Linked DNA regions of Homo sapiens: regions 2 and 3 are each linked to region 1. The links come from fine-mapping of genetic effects on gene expression. A gene starts in region 1. Each other region holds a variant in brackets. All regions are shown on one strand. Distances are from middle to middle.

What was found. PIP is the estimated chance that this variant, and not a neighbour inherited with it, causes the effect.
Region 2: its variant is fine-mapped to the expression of FGGY-DT in testis (GTEx, PIP above 0.99).
Region 3: its variant is fine-mapped to the expression of FGGY-DT in subcutaneous fat (GTEx, PIP 0.95).

What each region holds. Positions count from the first base shown.
Region 1 is chr1:59,295,104-59,297,867 of GRCh38, reverse strand. FGGY-DT (FGGY divergent transcript) reads left to right here and starts at 1,318. Exons shown (of 2, transcript XR_001738089.2): 1 at 1,318-1,499; 2 at 2,104-2,764. FGGY (FGGY carbohydrate kinase domain containing) reads right to left here and starts at 774. Exons shown (of 16, transcript NM_018291.5): 1 at 718-774. RefSeq lists silencers at 733-822, 833-1,372.
Region 2 is chr1:59,144,697-59,147,460 of GRCh38, reverse strand. It overlaps HSD52 (a long non-coding RNA gene), which reads left to right and starts at 654. Exons shown (of 3, transcript NR_027120.1): 1 at 654-785. RefSeq lists a silencer at 496-645 and an enhancer at 766-825. The variant C/T (reference allele first, on the strand shown) is at 1,215.
Region 3 is chr1:59,255,918-59,258,681 of GRCh38, reverse strand. No RefSeq gene overlaps it. Among named protein-coding and RNA genes, the nearest start is that of FGGY-DT, 39 kb to the left of the region's middle. The variant TTCTG/G (reference allele first, on the strand shown) is at 1,377.

The DNA of each region.
Region 1 (2,764 bases):
TGATGAGGGAAATTCACCATTTTGCACCTTGTCAATTTTTTTTTTTTTTTTCTGAGACGCTCTGTCCCCCAGGCTGGAGTGCAGTGGCACGATCTCAGCTCACTGCAAGCTCCGCCTCCTGGGTTCACGCTATTCTCCTGCCTCAGCCTCCCGAGAAGCTGGGACTGCAGGCGCCCGCCACCACGCCCGGCTAATTTTTTGTATTTTTAGTAGAGACGGGGGTTTCACCGTGTTAGCCTGGATGGTCTCGATCTCCTGACCTCGTGATCCACCCGCCTTGGCCTCCCAAAGTGCTGGGATTACAGGCGTGAGCCACCGCGCCCGGCCCCTTGTCAATCTTTAAATAAAAAGGAAACGGCTAAAAATGAAAAGATATCCCTAGGCCTTTCTACTCAGGATAACTGTAACCAAACAGCATTATCTCATCTAAACTCAGCTGTGCCTCAAACATTATCACAAGTGCTGGAAGCGTTTAAATCTACAAGCAACACTAGCCTAAAAATGCCTTCGGTAGCCAGACGTGAATTAAAGGCTCCTCAAATGCCAGGAAAATGTCCTACAAGGGTAAGGGGAGGAGAGAAAGAGTACTGAATACAGATAAGTGGGCACTGATCGGAGAGGAAGCAGCACGGGTTCCAGACACCTAATAGGCAGCCTTGGGGATGCAGTCAAGGCCGACCCTTCCCTTCCCTTCCCTTAAGTGGCCGGACGCCTCACCCAGAAGAGGACACAGGGGACTCAACAACGTCTCGGGAACAACGGCCCGGCGGGTGTGAGACTAAGCGGCCAGGAGGAGGAAGGGGAGGAGGAGGCAGGGGAGGAGGAGGCAACGACTGCGGGAAAGGGGAAGGAAGGGCCGGGCCGGGTTGGAGAAGCCTCTTTCTGGGCGTGCGCGCTAAGAGCCTGCGCACCAGCAAAAGCCCCCAGCGCCCACGTGGGACTGAGAGGAGGGTCACTTACAGTACTTGTCCAATCTGAAATTACATTTTAGCTAGACGGATTCTGCACGTAGCCGCGCCGAACCCCACGGCGCCTGAGCAGGGCGGTCCCGGGGCGGCTACAGCCCCGCCTTGCGCGCGATCCCGCCCCCGCCGGCGCGGCCCCTGTAAAGCGCGGCCCCTGTAAAGCGCGGCCCCTGTAAAGCGCGGCCCCTGTAAAGCGCGGCCCCTGTAAAGCGCGGCCCCTGTAAAGCGCGGCCCCTGTAAAGCGCGGCCCCTGTAAAGCGCGGCCTGATTGGCCCTTTGAACCGGGCGTGGGATTGGCCGTCGCCTGCCCACCCCGCGGCTGCAGCGTTCCCTGGGGCCTAGCCAACCGCGGGCAGGGCTGGGCAAGGCGGGAGGAGCGCGGACCCAAGATCGGCTACGCTGCGTCTGCTCAGGCTGCGAGTTCCCGGCTCTGGGGACTCACCTTGCGGAGCTTACCCAGGCGGACTCTCCGCAGCCCCTGATGGGTGTGTGTGTCAGACCGTTTACTAAACACCAGGACTGTTGTAGGCGACTGTAAGAAATAAGAATATTGCATGGTTACAATTCTTGAATGCTTACCTTGTGTCTTGTTCCTTACTCTACAGAAATTTTCTAATCCCGTGGCGAACCCCCGTACTTCAACGTATGACATTCTGTAAATCTACAAAACAGATGGGTCCCTGCCTTTGAGAAGTTTTTACAATTTAGTGGGTACTGGACACGGACCTAATTTAATTCTCACATGCCTTCCCTTTCTAATAAGCTGCATGTTATGTATCCCTATTCTACAGATGTGGGGAATCCGAAATTTTTAGCTTTTACTGGGACACACAGCTAGCAAGCAACTAAAGCGAGAATTCCAACCTGAGCTCCAATCCGAACTATTTTCATAAAAGGCAGGATCCCAGGCTGAGGGAGTTCGAGGTTTGGGAGACAGTTTAGCAGTCGCTGAGTCCAAACATGTTGTTTTCCTAGAAAAGAAAACTGAGATCCAGGAAAGGGAAGTGATTTTCCAAAGACACACCTGTGAAAGGTAATAATTTCACTGAACGGATCTTAAGTGGCAGGTGCACTAAGATTGTCTGCTATCTTCACAACAACCCCGAAGTAAATAAGTGCTCTTATCTTGGTCTTACAGGTGAGGAGAACAGCCCAGTGAGGCTGAGGCCACACAATTAACCCCAGTCTTTGCACTACAACTCTACCAGGGATCCTGGTTTGGCTCATTTTCTTTCTTCTGCACCATGATTGTTCACCTTTTCATTACCAGCAACATACCCAAAGACCTAGCTATAGACTCGTTGGAATCTGTTACTTAGCAGCTGTGTGAATCAAGTGTTCAATAGGAATAATAAGATGTATTCATCTTACCTTTTCAGAACATTATGAAGAACAAATGTGGTAAGACATATGAAAATGCTTTGTAAAGTGTTAGATGCTTAATACACAGAAGACATTGCTTCCAGATCTGTTTCAACGTACCCCAAGAATGGAATAAGTGGAATATGCTGGTTTCATGCACTGTGGCAAGGGGGTCTCATCTTGGCTAGACTTGAATAAGTGGATTTGTTGCCTGGCCTCTGTGGATGGCTCTTTCTCTGGGCTTTTGTGTATTTGATTTTTTATTTGCTCCAGCAGCCGTGTTGAACCATGAAAGGACCTCAGGAATGAAACCCACACACAGCAAAGCAACAAAGTGAAAGAAGCGTGGATTCCTAATGCAGGAGGCACTGAACCAATCAATACCCACTGCCCTCCAGACCTCCACATGAAAGAAAAAAACTGCTGTCCTGTGTAAG
Region 2 (2,764 bases), 150 kb after region 1:
GTGCTGACCGAGTTCAGAAGAAAAATGAGGGGAAAATCGTTACCTAAAGGGCAGTGGCTCTCCAGGGATGGTCCTTTGACCAGAGGAATCAGCATCACCACCCTAAACCCACAGAATCAGAAACCGTGGAGGGAGCCAGCAACGTGTTTGAATACAGCCTCTGGGTGATGCTGATGCACTCAAGTTTGAGAACTGCTACTCTGGGGGAAAGAAGGACTTTGTTGGAGCCTTGGAGGCAGGGACGGACTTCATAGGTCAGGCGAGAGGACAGGTCCCCGCGAGGGCGGACTAGCACTGGGTTGGTTCCCTGCATCCAAGGCCGCGCAGGGTGGTCCCAGCCCCAGTCTGACCTGGGAAGTTGGAAAGGCCAGGGCTCCTACGTGCTCACACCTCCACCCCAGGAAAGTCCCGGCGGCGAGGCCGTGACCCTCCGCCGGAACGCCCGCCTCCCTGCAGCCTCAGCCCCGCCCGGGAAAAACCGCTGCGACCCGGGGCAGGTCCGTTCCCGCTGCTCGCAGCCGGCGGTCCCTGGCCCGGCGGTCCCTGGCCTAGCGCCCCCGCGCCGCGCTGGTGGGGAGCGCGGCCCCTCCGCCCCGTGGCAAGTTCCCTTCTCAACTGCCCTGCGCCTCCGCTGGCCCGCGTGAAACCCTCTCTGCTGCCTCGACTGACTGTCGTTTCCGTGTCTTGATTGTGGCCTCTGCCTCTCCCCCTTCCGATTTCGTTCGACTTCTTTCTACAGTTACTAAGCGCCCACTGTGTGCCCTGGAAGGGACTAGACTCAGCAGGTAACGGGAAACGAAGGCACCTGCCGCTCTGAAGTTTCTCCGCATCTCCCTCCATCCTCTGTTCCATCCCCATTCTCAGCATTTGTCCCCTCCCTCCTCTTCTTTTTTTTTTTTTTTTTAATTTAATCTAAAGGAACCTTGCTTCTGGAAGACCTCACAGTAGAATTAAAAAGCCTACTTTTATCTGACTTCTAGAGAGTTGCAATTAAAATGTACATCTTACCTTGACTCATGCCAACAAGTTAAGCTGTTATCAGCTATTAACACCTCAACCAGAATTAGTTTATTAACCTAAAGCAGACAGCTTTATCCTATGGAGGTCGCCTACTTGAGATAAACTATTATTCACATACTTTCACTTTTGTGCCACTCACTCATTCAAAGAAAAATATTCAGTCGTTCAACTATTTATTGAGCACCTAGTATGTG[C/T]CAGCATTGTTCATGACTAGCACTGGTCGATGGCAATAATATTAACTACATACGACATTTTAAATTTTCTAGCAGCCACATTAAAGAAAGTGAAAAGACATAGGTAAAAGTAATTTTAATAATTTAACCCAATATGCCCTAAATATTATTTCAATATGTGATCAATATAAAAATTATCAATAAAATATTTTACATTTACTTTTTTTTTAATGCTGTGTCTTTGAAACTTTGTGTGTATGTTACACTTCCAGCACATCTCAGTTCCTGCTAGGAACATTTCAAATGCTTAATAGCCACATTGGCTAGTGGCCACTGTGCTAATCACTGCAATTCTAGACACTTGGAGAACAGCTATGGAAAGACAAAGGTAGAAAGTCAGTAAACTCATGAACAAATAAAATAATCATAAGTAGTGTTCAATGCTAGGAAGAAATTAAAACAAAGTAATGACATAGAATGATGGACATTACCTCATTTAACCTTTTCAATTCCCCCCTCAAGTTGAATAATAGTATATAACAATGTTATAGGCCGGGTGTGGTGGCTCACGCCTGTAATCTCAGCACTTTGGGAGGCCGAGATGGGCGGATCACGAGGTCAGGAGATCAAGACCATCCTGGCTAACACGGTGAAACTCCGTCTCTACTAAAAATACAAAAAATTAGCCAGGCGTGGTGGCGGGCACCTGTAGTCCCAGCTACTCAGGAGGCTGAGGCAGGAGAATGGCGTGAACCCAGGAGGTGGAGCTTGCAGTGAGCCGAGATCCCGCCACTGCACTCCAGCCTGGGCGACACAGCGAGACTCCGTCTCAAAAAAAAAAAAAAAAAGAAAAAAAAAAAACAATGTTATATAACAATTTTATAGCTATGAAAACTGAGGCTGAGACACAAAGAGCAACTTGTCCAAGTGCTTACAACTGGTAAATTCTATGTCCAGGATTCAGATCCCAGCTTGACTGTCTTCCATGCTCATTCCCATTACCCTACAAGGCCAGGTCATAAAGAAGACAGAGGGGAGGGAGGAGGAGTTGAATGGCTTTTGGGGTTTAAACTTTTGAGCACTGAACTAGGAATTTGGTGCTGCTGTGTGTTATTGATTAGGTCTCATGACCTCTCTGGGCCTTCCTCGCAGGTAACATGGAAAGCTTGGCCTTTTTCACTGGACCATTCACAAAGGGAATAAAGAGTTTTGAATAAAATAGTTAAACTTTTTATCCTCAAATGTACCTGCTTTTACACAAGTTTTGTGAAAAGCTCAAAGTATTTTTTTCCTTAGTTCGGGTGGACTAGACTAAAGACAATGGAGACAACATTGCATAGTGCTAGAAGCAGGGGGCTTTGAGTGGTGGTTGGCTGGTCATCCTAGCTATGGGAACTTAACTGTTTTGAGTTTCAATTTTCTTTATTTTAAAGCAGGTATCTACCTCATGGCATATTTGTAGAAGGGAAATGAAATGTTGCATGTAAGCATTTAACATAGCAACTAGCACATAGTAATCACACAATAAATATTGGCCATTATATTAACAGCCCCCATGGGTATTATACATT
Region 3 (2,764 bases), 39 kb after region 1:
ATTGCTGTATCCAAGTTTTAATTGATACTAAAAAACTGTTTTCCAAAGCGCTTGAACCAATTTACAATGACATCACTAATTTATAAGAGGAGTTCCGGTTACTCCACATCTTTGACAGTACTTCATATTGTCAGGCTTATTAATTTTAGCCATTCTGGTGGGTTTGTAATGGTTTTTAATTGTGGGTTTATCTTGAATTTCTCTCCTATAGCTAATGAAATTGAACACCTTTCCATCTGCTTGACCATTTGAACAGCCTCTTTTGTGCAATATCTGTTAGATAATTTTGCCTTTGTAAAATTGGGTTGTGTTTTTGTTATTTAATTTTGGAAGGAGTTCTTTATACATTCTGAGTATGAGTGATTTGTTGGATATATGTATTATAAATAATGCCAACCTGGGTCTCTGGGTTGCTTCTCTAGCCTCTGTTTGCACCTGTAACTCTGTGCCTTGCCTATTTGCTTTTTGATAAACAGAAATTCCCAACATTAATAAAATCAATTTTATAATTTTTTTCTTTTAGGGTAAATTCTTTTTGTGTCTTATTTAATACATTTTACCTATATCAAAGCCAGGAAGATATTCTTCTATATTTTCAGCTAGAAGCTTGATTACTTCGGACGTCACATTTTGGTTCTTAATCTACTTCAAATTAATTTTTGTGCATGGCCTGAGGTAGAGATCAAGCTTCCTTTATTTTCCACACTGATATTCAATATAAATTCAATATAAATGTAAACTGAGTGTCAATGTAGAAAATAAGGAAAACTTGCATTATTTATTGAAAAGATGGTCTTCTTCATACTGAATTGCAAAGCTTTAAGTCAAATGACCCTATGCGTGGGGATCTATTTCTGGACTCTATAATCTATTTTATTGTTCTGTTTTTCTAACTTAATACCAAAACTGCACTGTCTTAATTACTGTAGCTCTATAATAAGTCTTGAAATCTGTTAAGTATTCCAATTTTGGTCTTTTTTTAAAAGATTGCTTTGATGGACACATTTTTTATGTCCAATAATAAAGAAATGACTACATAAATTATAGTACCTCCATAAAATGCAAGAGTATGCATCCAAATTCATAAAATTTTGAATGATGCGGAAAAACACAAGAAATAATACTGAGTGAAGAAAAAAGAACATCGACTTGCAAAACCTGTATGACCTCCATTATGCACATGAAAAATATATAAAAAGAAGATGACAGGTAAATATGCCAGAATGTCAACTGTGGCTCTCTTTTCAAAGTGAAGTTATAAATATCAATTTCTGCCATTTTCTTGTTGATCTTGGATCCATTCACCACTTGCTGTGATCTTCTTTGTATTGCAAGGGGCTGAACCCTACAAACTATATTTCTCATGCATTCTTCCT[TTCTG/G]TCACTCCATGAGGACTGGCCAACAGAAGGCACTAGGAAAGAGATTGGGAATGGGATTTGCTTAGTTAGGCAGCATGTCCAGGCTGTGTCTTCTCAATGTTTTCATCTCCCTGTATGTGGCTTTGGTAGCTTCTTAGTGATCGTAGCACTTCTTTCATCCATCCTGCCACCCTTAAGGGTGACAATGGGTCTCTGGGTTGCCTCTCTATTCCATGTTTGCACCTTTAGCTCTCTGAAAGCATGTGGAATTAGTTCCTTAAATTACATTTCCTCTATTGAATTATTTGGAGTGATTCTATTTTTCTTAACTCGACTTTGACCTAGTAATTACTGTTTTCTTTTTTTTTTTATTATTATACTTTAAGTTTTAGGGTACATGTGCACAACCTGCAGGTTTGTTACATATGTATACATGTACCACGTTGGTGTGCTGCACCCATTAACTCGTCATTTAACATTAGGTATATCTCCTAATGCTATGCCTCCCCACTTCCCCCACCCCACAACAGGCCCCAGTGTGTGATGTTCCCCTTCCTGTGTCCATGTGTTCTCATTGTTTAATTCCCACCTATGAGTGAGAACATGTGGTGTTTGGTTTTTTGTCCTTGCAATAGTTTGCTGAGAATGATGGTTTCCAGCTTCATCCATGTCCCTACAAAGGACATGAACTCATCCTTTTTTATGGCTGCATAGTATTCCATGGTGTATATGTGCCACATTTTCTTAATCCAGTCTATCATTGTTGGACATTTGGGTTGGTTCCAAGTCTTTGCTATTTTGAATAGTACCACAATAAACATACGTGTGCATGTGTCTTTATAGCAGCATGATTTATAATCCTTTGGGTACATACCCAGTAATGGGATGGCTGGGTCAAATGGTATTTCCAGTTCTAGATCCCTGAGGAATCGCCACACTGACTTCCACAATGGTTGAACTAGTTTACAGTCCCACCAACAGTGTAAAAGTGTTCCTATTTCTCCACATCCTCTCCAGCACCTGTTGTTTCCTGACTTTTTAATGACTGCCATTCTAACTGGTGTGAGATGGTATCTCATTGTGGTTTTGATTTGCATTTCTCTGATGGCCAGTGATGATGAGCATTTTTTCATGTGTCTTTTGGCTGCATAAATGTCTTCTTTTGAGAAATGTCTGTTCATATCCTTCTCCCACTTGTTGATGGGGTTGTTTGTTTTTTTCTTGTAGATTTGTTTGAGTTCTTTGTAGATTCTGGATATCAGCCCTTTGTCAGATGAGTAGGTTGCAAAAATTTTCTCCCATTCTGTAAGTTGCCTGTTCACTCTGATGGTATTTTCTTTTGCTGTCCAGAAGCTCTTTAGTTTAATTAGATCCGATTTGTCAATTTTGGCTTTTGTTGCCATTG